Linked DNA regions of Homo sapiens: region 2 is linked to region 1. The links come from fine-mapping of genetic effects on gene expression. A gene starts in region 1. The other region holds a variant in brackets. All regions are shown on one strand. Distances are from middle to middle. Region 1 holds the start of RBAK (RB associated KRAB zinc finger). Region 2 has its middle 23 kb from the start of MMD2.

Region 1 (8,333 bases):
AAAGAGTATTTCCTTGATAAACGTGGTAATATAAATAACTTTTGTGCCTTTGACATGTATCTAAATCTTTTAAAAAGGTGAATGAACTTCTTGCCAACACTACAACCCAGGAATTTTTTTTTTTTTTTTTTTTTTTGAGACGGAATCTCACTCTCACCCAGGCTGGAGTGCAGTGGTGTGATCTCGGCTCACTGCAACCTCTACTTCCTGGGTTCAAGCAATTCCCCCGTCTCAACCTCCTGAGTAGCTGAGACTACAGCGCCTGCCACCACGCCTGGCTAATTTTTGTATTTTTAGTAGAGACGGAGTTTCACCTTGTTGGTCTGGCTCGTCTTGAACTCCTGACCTCAGGTGATCCACCCACCTCAGGCTCCCAAAGTGCTGGGATTACCCGCCTGATCCACCACGCCCAGCCACAACCCAGGAATTTTTTTCTTAAGAGCCTGAGAGTCTTGTCTTTGAAATGTAAACCTCGAGGAAGATAGTGTCCCTATCTTCCTGTTGCCTAGGGAGTTTAGCCTAGGCACCTTGAGCTGTTACTACCTGCTTGTCAAGGAGATATGAGAAGTTTTGTTTTTTCACCGGATACAGGTAATTAACTAGCATGGGTGGCCACCTTGATTTCCAGGTGAATTTAGGATGAGTGTTTAAGAATGCATAGCAGGCCAGGTGCGGTGGCTCACACCTGTAATCCCAGCACTCTGGGGGAGGCCGAGATGGGCGGATCACTTGAAGCCACACAGAAATCAAAAGAAGGAGTTTGAGTCCAGCCTGGCCAATATGGCGAAACTCTGTCTCTACTAAAATACAAATATTAGCTGGGCATGATGGCACATGTCTGTAATTCCAGCTACTCGGGAGGCTTAAGTATGAGAATCACTTGAACCCAGGAGGTGGGGGTTACAGTGAGCCAAGATCACACCACTACACTCCAGCCTGGATGACAGAATGAGACCCTGTCTCAAAAAAAAAAAAAAAACATAGCAAGTCCTTTTACATGAGGATGAGTTACCGTTTATCTTGAGAGCGTGTATGCAGTGGATCATGTCTGCCAGGCTATGTAAAAAGGAGGCTTTGGCTGGGCGCCATGGCTCACGCCTATAATTCCAGCAGTTTGGGAGGCCTAGGCGGGCGAATTGAGAGGTCAGGATTTTGAGACCATACTAGCTAACATGACGAAACCCCGTCTCTACTAAAAATACAAAAAATTAGCCAGGCGTGGTGGCATGTGCCTGTAGTCCCAGTTACTTGGGAGGCTGAGGCAGCAGAATCGCTTAAACTGGGGAGGCAGAGGTTGCAGTGAGCCGAGATCATACCACTGCACTCCAGCCTGGGTGACACAGCAAGACTCTGTCTCAAAAAAAAAAAAAAGGAGGCTTTATTTCTCTTTGCATCTCATTAATGGATCACCTGCGATGGGCATCACAGTTTGGTTTAATGTTTATTCAATAATAAAATTGTTTTCTTTATTTTCTGAATTTGTGGAGAGAATATTCTAGGTTAACAGAAGAATTTATTTATTTATCTATTTATTTATTTAGAGGTGGAGTCTTGCTCTGTCGCCAGGCTGCAGTGTAGTGGCGTGATCTCGGCTCACTGCAATCTCCGCCTCCCAGTTCAAGTGATTGCCCTGCCTCAGCCTCCCAAGTAGCTGGGACTACAGGCGCGCACCACCACACCCAGCTAATTTTTTGTGTTTTAGTCGAGACAGGGTTTCACCATGTTGGCCAGGATGGTCTTGGTCTCCTGACCTCATGATCCACCTGCCTCAGCCTCCCAAAGTGCTGGGATTACAGGCATGAGCCACGGTTCCTGGCATCAGAAGAATTTATTTTTAGTCTTTTCCTTACCAGTTTTTATGAAACAACTGGGCAAGAACACTAAGAACACTGTTAGAGTTCACCAAAAAATTGTGATGAATCATTGTCCTTATGATCCCATTTTTGAAAACTGACATTTTAATTGTAAAGCAAAAATAAAATTCTAAGCCCCCACAACTGACTGAATGGACTCCCCTGTCGGCCAGCAAGATCCAAAATAAACATGAAAAACTAATTCAGGTCATGATGGGAAGGAGGGGGTCGGACATGCCTTGTCATACTCTCCTCCCTTCAGAGTTTAGGCACAGCTGACCAACATTAACACTAGAATACAGATCATAAGACTGACAGAACAGGCTCTTTGTATCAGTAAGATACCCAACTCCATCCAGACTCTGATATAGCATCACATGACAGATAGCAGTCCCTGAAGGAAATCATAGTATTTTATCCCATAATATATTTTCTTTGACACACTTTAAAATAGTCCTGCAAAGCCATCTCTTTGGGGGAAATTTGCATTCTGTAGAGAATCTCCTTCCCTTACAGAAAAGAAGTCTTTTCTGGAGATTCTGACACCTTTTAAGATCCAATAAGAGATATTTATCATCTATTCTCTCTGAAGCCTGTTCTGAGGCTTCATCTACATAACAAGAACCTTGGTTTCCACAATGCCCCTTATCTTAACTCAAGCTTTTCTTTTCTTTCCCTCCCTCTTTCTTTTCCTTCCTTCCCTCCTTCCTCTCTCTCTTTTCCTCCCTCTCTTTCTCTCTTTCTTTTCTTCTCTGTTGCCCAAGCTGGAGTGCAGTGGCACCATCATGGCTCACTGTAGCCTCAACTTCCCAGGCTCAAGCAATCCTCCCATCTCAGCCTCCTGAGTAGCTGGGACTACAGGCATGCACCACCACACCTGGATAATTTTTTTTTTTGTAGAGGTGGGGGTCTCGCTGTGTTGCCCAGGCTGTCCTTCAACTCCTGGCCTCAAGGGATCCTCCCAGCTCACCCTCCCAAAATGCTGGGATCACAGGCATGAGCCACCGCAATGGCCCATTTCTTCATGTCGTTTTCCAACTGTTCAGCCAACGCTTAACTCTGAACCAACTGCCAATCTTTGAATCTGCTAGTGACCTGAAAGCCTTTCCAGGCTGACCCAATGTGTACCTCTCATGTATTGATTTATGTCTTTGCCTGTAACTGCTGTCTCCCTAAGATGTATAAAACCAAGCTGTAACCCAACCACTTTGGGCTCACGTTCTCAGGACCCCCTGAGGCTGTGTCACCAGCCATGGTCACTCAAGTAGGAGGCCCAGAATAAAACTCTTGACAGACTTTGAGTCTTTTTGGTCAACATAACCTAACCCTAAACATAATCCTCCTGGGGAAGGTGAGATCACAGGTATCTCTTTTCTTCGTTCGATCTGTGTATTTCCTGATTTCTCTACAGTTTTTAGGCATTCGCTGTGTGATCTAGAAAAGCTACAGAGTCTCGCTCCGTCGCCAGGCTGGAGTCCAGGGGCGCGATCTCGGCTCACTGCAACCTCCACCTCCCGAGTTCAAACTATTCTCCTGCCTCAGCCCCCGAGTAGCTGGGATTACAGGCACACGCCACTACTCCCAGCTAATTTTTGTATTTTTGGTAGAGAAGGGATTTCACCATGTTGGCCAGGATGGTCTCTATCTCTTGACCTCGCGATCCGCCCGCCTCGGCCTCCCAAAGTGCTGGGATTTATAGGCGTGAGCCACCGCGCCCAGCCACAAATTCTATTTTCTTTCTCTTCCTTGGAAAGCATCGCTGGGCATTTATCCTGTCCTAGTATTTGAGTGAAACTTCTCTTAGCATTTCAGCGCAGTGACCACGATACACCCTTTCCTTTCCTTCTCTTTATGGGAAACTCGGTTCTAACCCAGAGGCCTTGGGCTCCAGGACCCAGTCAGGCAGCCCTGGACTTGACCCTAAAAGGGAGTAAAGACAAATGCGAAGTTCAATCAGGGGTTCAGAGCTCCCAAAGCTCATAGCCTGGAGCTTCTTAACCTTTAGGCAGGGTAGAGACATTTAAAACGGCCCCTAAACTTGGGGGGCGCGTAGGCTCATGGGAAATAGAGTAGGGTGCTTGTCCTGGGACCAGCTGTGGGCCCCGGAGGCTGACTTCCGGTGCACTCCTGCGCGTGTGCACCTCTCTCTGTGTGCGTGTTCGCGCATGCGCGCCGCCGCTGCACTGCCCTCGCTTCCTGTGCGTCCTCAGGTCACCGCTTGCTCTAGTTCCCAGGCTTTGGCCTCCAGTGGACGAGAATCGCGGAGCCTGCGGGGCTGGAGGTTGAGCGCCCGGGCCAGCACCTAGGCGGGCGCGGGGGTGTGCAGGCCAGGGTTCGCGCGGGCCGGGTGGAGGCTTGAGCGGGGACCCCCGAGCTTGAGCCCCGGAGCCGGCGGCGCTGGGGCCAGAGGGGCCGGACGGGAGGTGGCGGAGGTGGCGGCGGAGGCGAAGGGGCGGCGGGACGCGGGCCTGGCCCGTGTGTGTCCTGGCGGCCTGGCCCAGGCTGCCGCTGTACGGTGAGCCCGAGGGAGGCGGATCTGGGTCCCGGGAAGGACACCCGCCTGGATTTGCCCCTTAGGCCCGGCCCGGGCCCCTCGGGAGCAGAACAACCTTAGTGAGGTGGACAGGAGGGGACCTCGCGAGCAGACGCGCGCCAGCGACAGCAGCCCCGCCCCGGCCTCTCGGGAGCCGTGGGGCAGAGGCTGCGGAGCCCCAGAAGGGTAGGTCTTGGGTTTTCGGGCCCGGAGCGAGAAGGGCCTGAGTGAAGTCACCGTGTGTTGGGGACCTTAGAGTGTGGGGCAGGGGGAGGGTCTCGATCGCTTGCAGGAGAGACGTGTGTTTGGGTTTGAGGGCAGGGTCCGGCTGCACCGAACAGGCGCTGCATGGGAAATCTGGGAGGACGAGGCTTATGGGGGCCTGGAGGGTGTCACCAGCCTCAGCTGCGGACGTCGTCTCCACTCCCCGCTAACCCCTAACAGCCCTTCCTCCTCCTTTCCGTGCTCCAGATTTCGACCTCCTCTAAACGTCCGTCAGCGCCTCTGTTCTCTCATTTAAGTGTCTGCTGATTCCCCCCTTAGATCTGCCCTGGAGACTGGTAGTAATGCAGGAACAGTCTGCAGGGATTCTCTCTTGCTGCCTCAGTTGCTAGGGGAAGAGACTGGGCCTTAGCAGGTGGGTGACTTGACCGGGTCACTGGCTTTGTGGGTAGAGTTGCTCATAGTAGAACTCAGGAGTCTTATCTCCCAGGCCAGTGTTCTTTCTCCCGTATCCTAGTTTTCTTAATAGAAGATTATTAGGTGCAGCAATAACCAAGTTCAGTTAGATAATTTAGAAACAAAACCATATTTTATACACATTCATTTCATTTCTGAGAGCTCACATACTCAATTCCTATGGCTTCTTTGATTTTAAGCAGTTTAAAGAGACAATAAGAAAATGCGGGCCGGATGCAGTGGCTCACACCTGTAATCCCAGCACTTTGCGGGGGCTAAGGCAAGAGTATCCCTTGAGACCAGGAGTTAGAGACCAGCCTAGGCAACATAGGGAGACCCTGACTCTACAAAAAATACAAAAGTAGCCAGGCATGCTGGGATGCACCTGTGGTCCCAGCTACTCAGGAGGCTGAGGTGGGAGGATCAATGGAGGCCAGGAGGTCGAGGCTGCAGTGAGCTGTGAATGCACCACTGCACTCCAGCCTGGGTGGCAGATTGAGACCCTGTCTCAACAAACAGACAAACCACAAAAAACATGAGCTGTATAATGGGAATTTTTTTTTTCTTTTTGCAGGTTGTATTTGATGATGGCAGACTATTTGTAAAAGGAGTCATGTTACCCATGAGAGTCTCACTCATCTGATTACTACCTGATTATCTTAGAGTTACAAAGTTACAAGTGCATGCTTCGCCTATCACTCTTTTTCACTCTCTTTTTTTTTTTTTTTTTTTTTTTTTTGAGACAGTGTCTCTCACCCAGTCTGGAGTGCAGCAGTGTGGTCTCGGCTCACTGCAACCTCCACCTCCCAGGTTCAAAGGATTCTTGTGCCTCAGCCTCCTGAGTAGCTGGGACTACAGGCATGTGACACTATGCCTGGCTAATTTTTTTGTTATTTTTAAGTAGAGATGGGGTTTCGCCATATTGGCCAAGGAAGGCGGATCACTTGAGGCCAGAATTCGAGACCAGCCTGGCCAACATGGCGAAACCCTGTATCACTCTTTTAGGCCCTTCTGAGTGTTTGCAGGCTGAGTGTTCACAGGGTGTTAGCCTATTGAGCTTTCTTTTGTGGTTCTTACGCAGGAGATTCCTGCCTTTGCAGGCCAGAGCACTCATGACTTCAGTGACCTGCTTCTCCCCCTCTAGGTCTACCAGCCACAGTCTCTGCACGTTTCCAAGAGCAGCAGAAAATGAACACATTGCAGGTGAGTTTTCATGCTTGTGTATATGTTCCTCAACTTTATTTTATGATGCATTTTAAGAGGTTTGTAAGGATTCTTACCTTTTTTTTTTTCTTTTTTTTTGAGATGGAGTCTTGCTCTGTTGCCCAGGCTGGAGTGCAGTGGCATGATCTCGCTTCACTGCAACCTCCACCTCCTGGGTTCAAGCGATTCTCCTGCCTCAGCCTCCCGAGTAGCTGGGATTACAGGCGTGCGCCACCATGCCCAACTAATTTTTTGTATTTTTAGAAGAGACAGGGTTTCACCATGTTGGCCAGGCTGGTCTCAAACTCCTGACCTCAGGTGATCCTCCTGCCTCAGCCTCCCAAAGTGCTGGGATTACAGGCATGAGCCACCGCGCCCAGCCAGGATTCATACTTTAAAATGGGAATGTGGAAATAGACATTGTCCTGTAAAATATAGTTAGTGTGGCAGATCAGCACCAAAAATGATTTGTGAAGCTTGTATGTGTGGATAGTAGATTTTAAGGCTGTTGAAATTGAGCCGCACCCAGGACTGATATTCTTGGCAGTCATCACAAAAGGAAAATGCCATCTGTATTAGTCCATTCTCACACTGCTATAGAGAAATAACCAAGACTGGGTCATTTATAAAGAAAAGAGGTTTAATTGGCTCACGCCTGCAGGCTCTATCATAGGAAGCATGGCTGGGGAGGCTTCAGGAAACTTACAGTCATGGTGGAAGGCAAAGGGAAAGCGGGTACATCTTCCATCACCAGAGCAGGAGGAAGAGGGAGGGGGAGGCGCTACACACTTTTAAACAACCACGTCTTGTGATAAGTCACTGAGTGTCAGGAGAACAGCACCAAAAGGGAAATTGCCCCCATGATCCAATCACCTCCCACCAGGCCCCACCTCCAACATTGGGGATTACAATTGAACATGAGATTTGGTTGGCGACACAAAGCGAAACCATATCACCATCCATGACATCATTTGCATTCATTATAAGGAGAAACCAACTTTGTTACTTGTGGATTTAAAAGATTTTCTAGGACTTGGAAAAATTTCTTCATTCAAGTTGATATAATTGCGGATAGCTTTCCTAATAACAACCATTAAGTTACCATAACTTATGGCTTATTCTTGGTGCTTATGTAAGCAGAGGGCCTGCCTGCTGCCCAAGGAGAACTTGGTGCATATAATTTTTCCAGGGAAGGAAACATTGTGATCCCAGTAGACAGAATTCTGTTTTTACTGTTGAGTCCTAGATCATGGGGGGAATGAATGACATGATCATCCTTCAAATATTTGTTCGTCTTTCAGTTTGGGTTGCACAGCAAACAATACAGTTACTCTCTTGTGAAGATTTCCTCATTTCTGTTTCTCATTTCAGTTCTCAGTGTTTTAGTTTTGTCCTTTTCACGTTGCTGAGTCAGTCTGTAAAGATTACCAGTGATTTCATTGCAGTCAAATCCAGAGGGGATTTCCTAGCCCCTACCTCCCAGGACCCTTTGTCTGCCTTTGACATCTGTTACTTCCAAACTGATACTTTCTCCATGGAGTCTCTCTTTTCTTGGCTTTTAAAAAGATTCGTCTGTAAGTATTTCTGCTTGTCTTTAAATGATGAAGTCTGTTTTGTTTTGTTTTGTTCTGTTTCTTTTTTTCTTTTTTTGAGATAGGGTCTTGCTGTGTCACCCAGGCTGGAGTGTAGAGACGTGATCACAACTCACTGCAACCTCAGTCTCCTGGGCTCACACGATCCTCCTGCCTCAGCCTCCTGCATAGCTACAGGCGCAAGCTGCCACACCCGACTAATTTTTTTATATTTTAGTAGAGACTGGGTTTCACCATGTCACCCAGGCTGGTCTTGAACTCCTGAGCTCAGGCAGTCTGCCCGCCTCGGCCTCCCAAAATGCTAGGATTACAGGCGTGAGCCACTGCTCCCAGCCTAGAGATGTATTCCCACTGTATTGCTCAGACTGGTCTCAAACTCCTGACCTCAAGCAATCCTTTCACTTTGGCCTCCCAAAGTGCTAGGATTACAGGTGTAAGCCACCACACCTGGCTAATAAGGAATCTTTTTGAAAG
Region 2 (8,333 bases), 64 kb before region 1:
TCCACCTACCTCAGCCTCCCAAAGTGCTGGGATTACAGGTGTGAGCCACTGCACCTGGCCTTCCCTTAATCTTTATCAATTTTGCTTAACATGCTTCTCAGTAAGGCAAAACCATTAAGAGTATACACTACCTGGCCATAGATTGGTGATGTTGGTCAGTTCTGGAAATTTTGTAGCTGTTTCCTGTCTTCTGTAACTCTTCTCCCACAGTCTCCAAGTCTCTAAGTCCACCTCTTTGTCTCTGAGATGCATTCTGGATGATTTCTTCAGATGTGTCTTCTAGCCCACAAATTTCTCTTCAGTAGAATGTAATCTTCTTTTAACTCATCCACTGTTTTTCGGTTATGGTATTTTAGCTTTTAATTCTCTTGGTTATTTTCCTAGAGTTTTGCTCTTTGCCTATATTTTTAGTCTTTTTTAAATTTCTTTAACCAATAAACATAGCTTCTTTGTGAGTTTGATTGCTGTGATCTGTTAAGTTCTTGGGAATCATATTCTGTTTTTCCTGCTGGCTCCCATGGTGCCTCGTTTTCTTGTGTATTTTCTAAGTTTGACTCTAAGCTCATGTCTTGAGTTCTTGATAGAGTTGGTTTCTTTATAGAGAATTGCTTTTGCTTCTTTCAAGTCCCCGAGGGCAGTGTCAGTTTGAAACGACTTTAGATTCCTGTCTTGAAGTTTTCGGATTACACAAACTCTTTTTTTTTTTTTTTAAGACGAAGTCTCAGTCTCTTGCCCAGGCTGGAGTGCAGTGGCGTGATCCTGGCTCACTGCAGCCTCCGTCTCCAGGGTTCAAGTGATTCTTCTGCCTCAGCTTCCTGAGTAGCTTGGATTACAGGTGTGCACCAACATGCCCAGCTAATTTTTGTATTTTTAGTAGAGATGGGATTTCACCATGTTGGCCAGGCTGGTCTCGAACTCCTGACTTCAAGTTACCCCCCTGCCTCAGCCTCCCAAAGTGCTGGGAGACGTGAGCCACCGTGCCCTGCAAACCTTTTATTTATTTATTTATTTATTTATTTATTTATTTATTTATTTATTTATTTATTTTGAGAGAGAGTTTTGCCCTTGTTGCCCAAGCTGGAGTGCAGTGGCATGATCTCAGCTCACTGCAACCTTCGCCTCCCAGGTTCAGGTGATTCTCCTGCCTCAGTCTCCCGAATAGCTGGGATTACAGGCATGTGTTACCTCACCCGGCTTGGATTACCCAAACTCTTAAAGCATTTTTTATTTTTCAACAAGAGACTCTACCTGGGTATTTAACCTTCCTTACAGTGAGGAAAGAAAGCCATTTGGTTATTTACATGCCAGTTACTCACTCTTCTGAAGCCTTTCCACATATTCTTTATTGTGTATAGTTTTTAAACTTGGTTATTGTATACCAATGTGTATATAATATACATAAAGAAAAATGAACAAAATAAAGATGCACAGCTCAATAATTTATCACAAACCAAACATTTATGGAACCACAACCCAGAAATCTTCAAGAAATAGAATGTTGCTATCCTCTTTAAACACTACATAAAGATTTTGTATAGTCTTCTTTTGCATCTGACTTCTTTTCACTCAGCATTATGTTTGTGAGGTTTATTCACGTTGGGTAGAGCCACAGTTTATGTATTTTCCATTGCTAAGTGGTATTCCATTTATATCACTTAGCAATGAAATTTCCCATCTACTTTTGATAGGCATTTGAGTTCTGACTGTCACAAATAATGTAGCTGTGAACATTCTCCTGCTTGTCTCCTGAACTCTACTTGCCCCACACCCTGGCATCCACCTTCCTATTGGCTATGTTTGTGTCTTCAACAGAATTGTTTGTTGGAGATTTTTTTCCCCTCCTAAGCTTTTAAAATACTTTCTTTTTGGGTTTCCAAGTGGTGTGATAATAACTACATTTTTTTAAATTACTAAGCTTTATTTTTTAGAGCAGTTTTAGGTTTACAGGAAAATTGAGCAGCAATGACTACATTTTTACAATGAAAACTTTCTTGTAGGCTTCTACTCATCTAAAAAGCAACTTATATGTGTGAATTGCTTTAACAACTCTTCGACAATACTGAGTTATGTTATTTTTTGTAGTTAACTAGGGTAGGCATGAAGTAGCATAAGTGACATTTCTTTGCTAATTGGCTGTGTTTTTCAAATATTTGTTTACTAATTGTATTTCCCTTGCGTGTGAATTGTTTACTTCTCTCTTCTCTTTGAATTCCTAATGTTTCCTGGTTATGAAATGTAATACAGGTTTGTTCATTACAGAAAATGTAAATGATAGAGAAAAGTATAAACTTAGCTCATTTATAGAACAATGATTTGAATACCAGATACCATGTTTTAGTATTTTTTAACAATTTAACCTCATAGAAATTGAGTATATTCAATGTTTTTGTCTCCTTCTGCAAATGAAGAGGGATGTTTAAATATATCTTCAAGATTGTCTAGAAAAATCACTAAAATGTAATCAAATTGACACCTTCTCTTACAGTTCTGTTCTCCTACTTCCTGAGTCTCACACGTGTAATTATTTTTAGGGTCTTGCTGTCCCTCTGTGCTTTTTGTGTCACTCAGAAACATTGATCTTTAAACACATAAAAATTCTCATGAAATCTAAAAAGCAAGGGAATGTACGGTCACTGTATTCCATCTTTTCAAGCCAATCTTGTTTTCCTGACACTGCTTTCCTTTCCATTATTCTCTGGACTCCTAGGACAGTGTTAACTCCACAACTAAACTAAAATGTTAATGGAAACTGGAAATAAGGCCCAAAGCTGAGTTGAGCAGACTGGGATTTTGTTGTAGCTCAGTCTCAGTTGCTTTATGTGCGTCTTTAAATGGCCTTCAGATGGAACCATCTGGCCATTTTAAGCAGGAAGGGCCTATTCATTAGAGAACCACGTGGCAGGTAATCTACTCTGGCTGGTTAACTTAGATCTTTCACTCACACGTGGTCAACTTCAGTTGGATGAAGGCAGCAACAACTATCTAAGGGTTGAAAGATTGGAGTACGGCTGGGCGCGGTGGCTCACGCCTGTAATCCCTGCACTTTGGGAGGCCGAGACGGGTGGATCACAAGGTCAGGAGATCAAGACCATCCTGGTTGACACGGTGAAACCCCGTCTCTACTAAAAATAGAACAAAATTAGCCGGGCGTGGTGGCGGGTGCCTGTAGTGCCTGCTACTCGGGAGGCTGAGGCGGGAGAATGGCATGAACCCAGGAAGTGGAGCTTGTAGCTTGCAGGAGGTGGAGCTTGTACCGCTGCACTCCAGCCTGGGCAACAGAGCGAGACTCAGTCTCAAAAAAAAAAAAAAAAAAACTGGAGTACTAGCCTGGCTTACTTTGCAGGAGTGCCTTCTCTAGAACTGCTAGCATGTCAGATCAGCTCAAGCATGAGGTCATATGAAGACGTGGGCAGACTGAAGTCCGACAGGCTTCCCCACTGCTTTTGCCCCAGGGTGCAGATATTAGAACAGAGGCTACCACTTGTTTCTGTAGAAGAAAAACTTTGTCCTTCATTTCCTGTGCCTCCAAATGTCACTTAACCTCCAGAAGAGTTCTGTTGGTAAGCATAATGAAGGGATTAAACTAGAAATGAATTTTGACAGTTTATAGTGAGAGCTTCTGATTTCTGCCATGTGGAACTTCATGTCTGTAGCATTTCAGTATTTGAAGTTCTTAATATTGTTGCAAATATAAAATGAATTGGGGAGAGATGAACCTCTCAAACATGTTTTGTTTTTTCAAGAAATCATATCTACTGTTCCATCTGTATTTCATGTAGAGGTGTACTTATGTATCATTTACTTGAGAAAACACATAAAAACAGACCATTTTAAAGCTAGTCCGTGTCTGGTTTGTCGCCACATCAAATATGCACATGTAATGAGTTGTCTGGAACTCAGGCCTTTCCCTACAGACGCGATTTTTGCTGGTGGCTAATTCTCAGGTCAGCCTTCAAAGGTTTGCATAACCTCATTGCACACCAGTGAATTCTAGGACGGAGAATTACCACTGATGACAATGGTTTTAAAGGAAAATGTACTCTGAATTCTTGTCGCCCTCTGTAATAGGAGGAGTTTGCTGCTTTTTTTCCTCTCTTTGGGCCTCTGGCGTTGTCTTCTGTGGACTGGGCAGGCTGTGGTGGTAGGGAAGGGGGGAGCTTAGAGATGAAGAGTATGTGGGACTCCTGAAGTAACGGCAAAGGGAAATGCATTGAGATGTCAAGATGAGGGAGAAGGCTTTGACATGGGTCCCCAGCGGGGGCTGTAGAATCAACGAACCTCTCCAAACCGGTCCCCAAACACTGGCACCTGGATGAGAAAAGGAGCAGAGCTGAGCACTTTTTCTCTGCCCTCTTTCTGCCAGACCTCCTGTTCTACTATTACAGGCCTTACTATTGACATCTGGCAAAAGAGAACCAGTAGAAAGGGAAGTGTGTGAGAACTGCAGGTATAGCACCTAGGAGGTCATCTTAGAAATCTACTGGAGCAAGAGAAAGAACAGAGAAAAGGGGAAGTCCCCATTACCCTCCGAGCAAAGAAGCTTCCTTGCTACTGAATGTGGCTAGAGCTGTACCCCACCCACTCTGTCTGCACTACTGTGCAGTCGTTCCAAGGTGGTTGTCTGATTTGACTGTGAAGAGCCTGGATAGTTAACAT[C/G]TGTTGGGTCTGGGTGGTGATACATCAGTGTGTGTTATCTCACTCTATATAGCCTTACTTTGGAAGTATTTCATGCTGATAATAGACAAAGCTAGTGGGTTTGGTGTGAAGAGAGTCTGTTCATAGGAAAACATGATCTGTTCATCAGTCTAGCTTAGCAGCTAGCTAAATAAATGAAGTGTAACTCAATGGCTCATAGAGCTTTATATTACCATAGAGATTTATGTTACCACAGGGGTATAAAAAGTATTAATGAATTAACAGAAGGTCTTTTATATTTCATTTATTTATTACATCTCTTAGCAGACTGTTTTTACTGTAAATGTGAACACACAGTTTTCCACTTCTTTCTTGTTCATAGTTTTCTTGACAAAGAGTAGCTACTTTTCTTTCAAATTTTCCAATTTTGTAGTTTAACCAATAATAGTTTCAGTGACTTCAATACATTAACACCCAATTGATACATAAACTTCAGAGGAGTTTGCCTTAATCAGTATGTTCATTGCTTTTTAAATTTTTTATCTTTCACAAAGATAGAAATTCAGTGCAGTTGTTTGTTTATTTGTTTAGTTTTTCTGGGCTACAAACATCTTAATTTCTTGATAGGCCAGTTGTAACGTGTGACTAAGGACTATATTCTTCAGACATTGCATTTGAAGCAATGGGCAGGTGTGGGATTTGGAAGCAGTATGAAAGTAACATCATTTGTTTCTGCAGACTTTGTAATTTTCTTCTGGAAAACCCAGATTATCCAAAGAGAGAAGACAGAATCATTATAAATCCCAGTAGCAGTCTGCTGGCCAGCCAAGATGAGACAAAGGCAAGTGTCATGTTCATGTTTTGCAGTCACTGCCTGGAAATGCTGTGCTTTGTTGTTGTTGTTGTTGTTGTTGTTGTTATCTCTGTGGGAAGAAGGTGCTTTGTTGGGACAAGTTTTTAAAGACTAGCCGAGGGACATAGGATTTCAGAATATATCTATACTTCAGTGCGATCTCCCAGTCTGAGCCACTTTGAATTCTGTCTTTAACTTCTATCTTTCCTTGTAATTCTTATCTTCCTTTTCCCACAAAGAATTGAACGAATCCTCCATATCTGTAATCCTACAAAGCAAATTCCTAAAGCAAAACAAGAATTGGCCAAAACTCTTAACATTTTATTATGAAAATTTTCAAACCTACAGAAAAATTGAAATATTTTACGTTGATCACCTGTATACCTACCACTGGTACTACTAAAAAGTTAACAGTTTACTGTATCCTCTTTATCATACATATGTCCTCTGTCTGTCCATCAGCACATCTTTGTTATGTTTCATTTCATGATAATGCATTTCAAAGTAAATTGCAAAAACATCAGTACACTTCCCTGTAAGTACTTCAGCATGCAGATCATTACCCAGAGTGGAATATCTTTTTTCTTTTGATGTGAGATTTGTATACAGCGTATCCTATACATCTGTTTAACCAGATCTCATATCAAGATGTAAACAGTTTGGTTTTTAAAAACTTTAATCATTGTCATTATTTGTGATCTAAACTGGCATTTAGTTTGTTACATGGTAAAGTATGGTTGAGAACTAACTTTATTAAGATGTGTTGCTTGATCTTCCAACTCCCCATAGATTCTTTGACTATCTCTCTTACGTATTCTATAATAGAAAAAAAATAGTTGTTTGTAAATATGGTATGGAAAGAAGATGGCTGTAAGATTGGTTTAAATCCCCAACTATACTTCTTTACTAGTTATAACTAGTAAAACTAGTCTGCCGGCTCCAGACAGGTTTGTTTAACCTCTCTGAGCCACCATTTTCTCATCTCTCTTATAGGGCTGGTAACTTCCTTATAGAGTAATTAGAACAAATGTTATTCTTTTCTGCACATAAATTCTTAAAATGATTTCCCCTACATGGGAAATGTACTGCCTGGCCTTTGATTTTATGCTTCTGTCTCGTTTCAGTTGCCTAAAATAAGACTTTTTTGACTATTCTAAATTGACTCCTCTTGACCAGCACTGCTTCATCCAAGCTGCTGACCTCCTCATGGCCGACTTCAAAGTGCTCAGTAGTCAGGACATCATGTGGGCCCTGCACGAGCTCAAAGGACACTATGCAATCACCCGAAAGGTACTCTACTTGGTCTTCCTGTTGGGGTCACACCTCTTGACTACATCTTCACACGGTAACAGAATGAACAGCTTGTGGAAATTGGGATGGTTTATGATTGCTAAGGAATTTATGAGGGTGAAGATAAATAGATGGGTATTTGCTGATCGTGAAGGGCTAAATGAAAAGAAATAATAGATAGATGAGAAGTAGAGAAGTTCTGCTTTGACCGTAAAAACATGGAGGGTAATACATTCTACTGTGGAATGCAGGAGTATGAGAGATGCGTTCTAATCCTGCTCCTTCCTGATTTGCTTTCCGACTTGGGACAGGTCACACAACCATCCATCCCCCAGGTGGCTCAGTTATCAGTGATAGGACGTAAGGTCTGTAGAGAGTCCGGGAACACAGCAGTGCCCCCTCAGAAGAGAATGGGCAGCTACTGACAGCTCCCAGCGTTCTCCCCCCAGGATCCTAAAATAGATGGCACTTAAAGGCCTTGGTTGAGGGTGAGGAGGGTGCTGGTTTGTGGTGGGTAACACAGGCGTCTTCCATGAAGGACAGCACACGGTGCATGCTTTGTAGCTGTGGCCAGAACAGGAGCGCACGCACCAGCAGAGACCTTGGCTTACTCCTCTTGGTCGCTCTTACTGCCATTAAATTCTATTCTACTGAAATTCTTGTGATTCTCAGCAACACAGTGATGTTTCTTTTGTCCAAAGGACAAACGTGGAGTTATCGTAGTGGTTAAAATACTCATTGGGTCTTACCTGTAGGAAGGGAAGAACCAAGCCAAGGACTGTGGCTTATGCTGAGGTCTAGGCCAAGCCCCTTCCACCTTTTTTTTTTTTTTTTTTGAAATGGAGTCTCGCTCTGTCGCCCAGGCTGGAGTGCAATGGCGTGATCTCAGCTCACTGCAGCCTCTGCCTCCCCAGTTCAAGCGATTCTCCTGCCTCAGCCTCCTGAGTAGCTGGGACTATAGATGCTCACCACCACGCCTGGCTGATTTTTGTATTTTTAGTAAAGATGGGGTTTCACCATGTTGGCCAGGCTGGTCAGCAACTCCTGACCTCAGATGATCTGCCTGCCTCAGCGTCCCAAAGTGCTGGGATAACCTCGTGAGCCACTGCACCCGGCCAAAAAAAGACTGAAAGAAAAATAGGCTTTGAAAGGGTAAAACAGGAGGCAACCTAAGGTAGACCAAGGGTCTCCACAAGGGCCTCCCTGAGCAAGGGACATTTAATCACAGACCCACATAGGAGTTTGGTGAAAGGGGTCGTGGAAGATGTTAGTATCATTTATTGGGGTGAGAACTAGTATAAACATCTGCTTTGGAGAGAAATAATCATGAAATCAGTCTGGGAAACGTTGGTTGCCAATGTGCTGAGAAGGGCCTGTGAGACATCTGAGTAAAAATAATTCATTGGGAGGTTGAATGGACTAGAAAGTTTGGAAAATACAGACTGTAGATAGGATTTTTTTTTTAAATCTCCTTGGGTTTTATGGTGATAGGACTTTGAGAGTCATCAGCATATGGAAAATCTCACCAGCCAGGATGAGGTACCCAGAGATACCA

What was found. PIP is the estimated chance that this variant, and not a neighbour inherited with it, causes the effect.
Region 2: its variant is fine-mapped to the expression of RBAK in monocytes after LPS (Quach 2016, PIP 0.95).

What each region holds. Positions count from the first base shown.
Region 1 is chr7:5,041,825-5,050,157 of GRCh38, forward strand. RBAK (RB associated KRAB zinc finger) reads left to right here and starts at 4,036. Exons shown (of 5, transcript NM_021163.4): 1 at 4,036-4,572; 2 at 6,209-6,267. The coding sequence starts at 6,253. RBAK-RBAKDN (RBAK-RBAKDN readthrough) reads left to right here and starts at 4,036. Exons shown (of 6, transcript NM_001204513.3): 1 at 4,036-4,134; 2 at 6,209-6,267. The coding sequence starts at 6,253. RefSeq lists a silencer at 4,176-4,385 and an enhancer at 4,536-4,645.
Region 2 is chr7:4,978,298-4,986,630 of GRCh38, forward strand. It overlaps the pseudogene RNF216P1. Among named protein-coding and RNA genes, the nearest start is that of MMD2, 23 kb to the left of the region's middle. The variant C/G (reference allele first, on the strand shown) is at 4,657.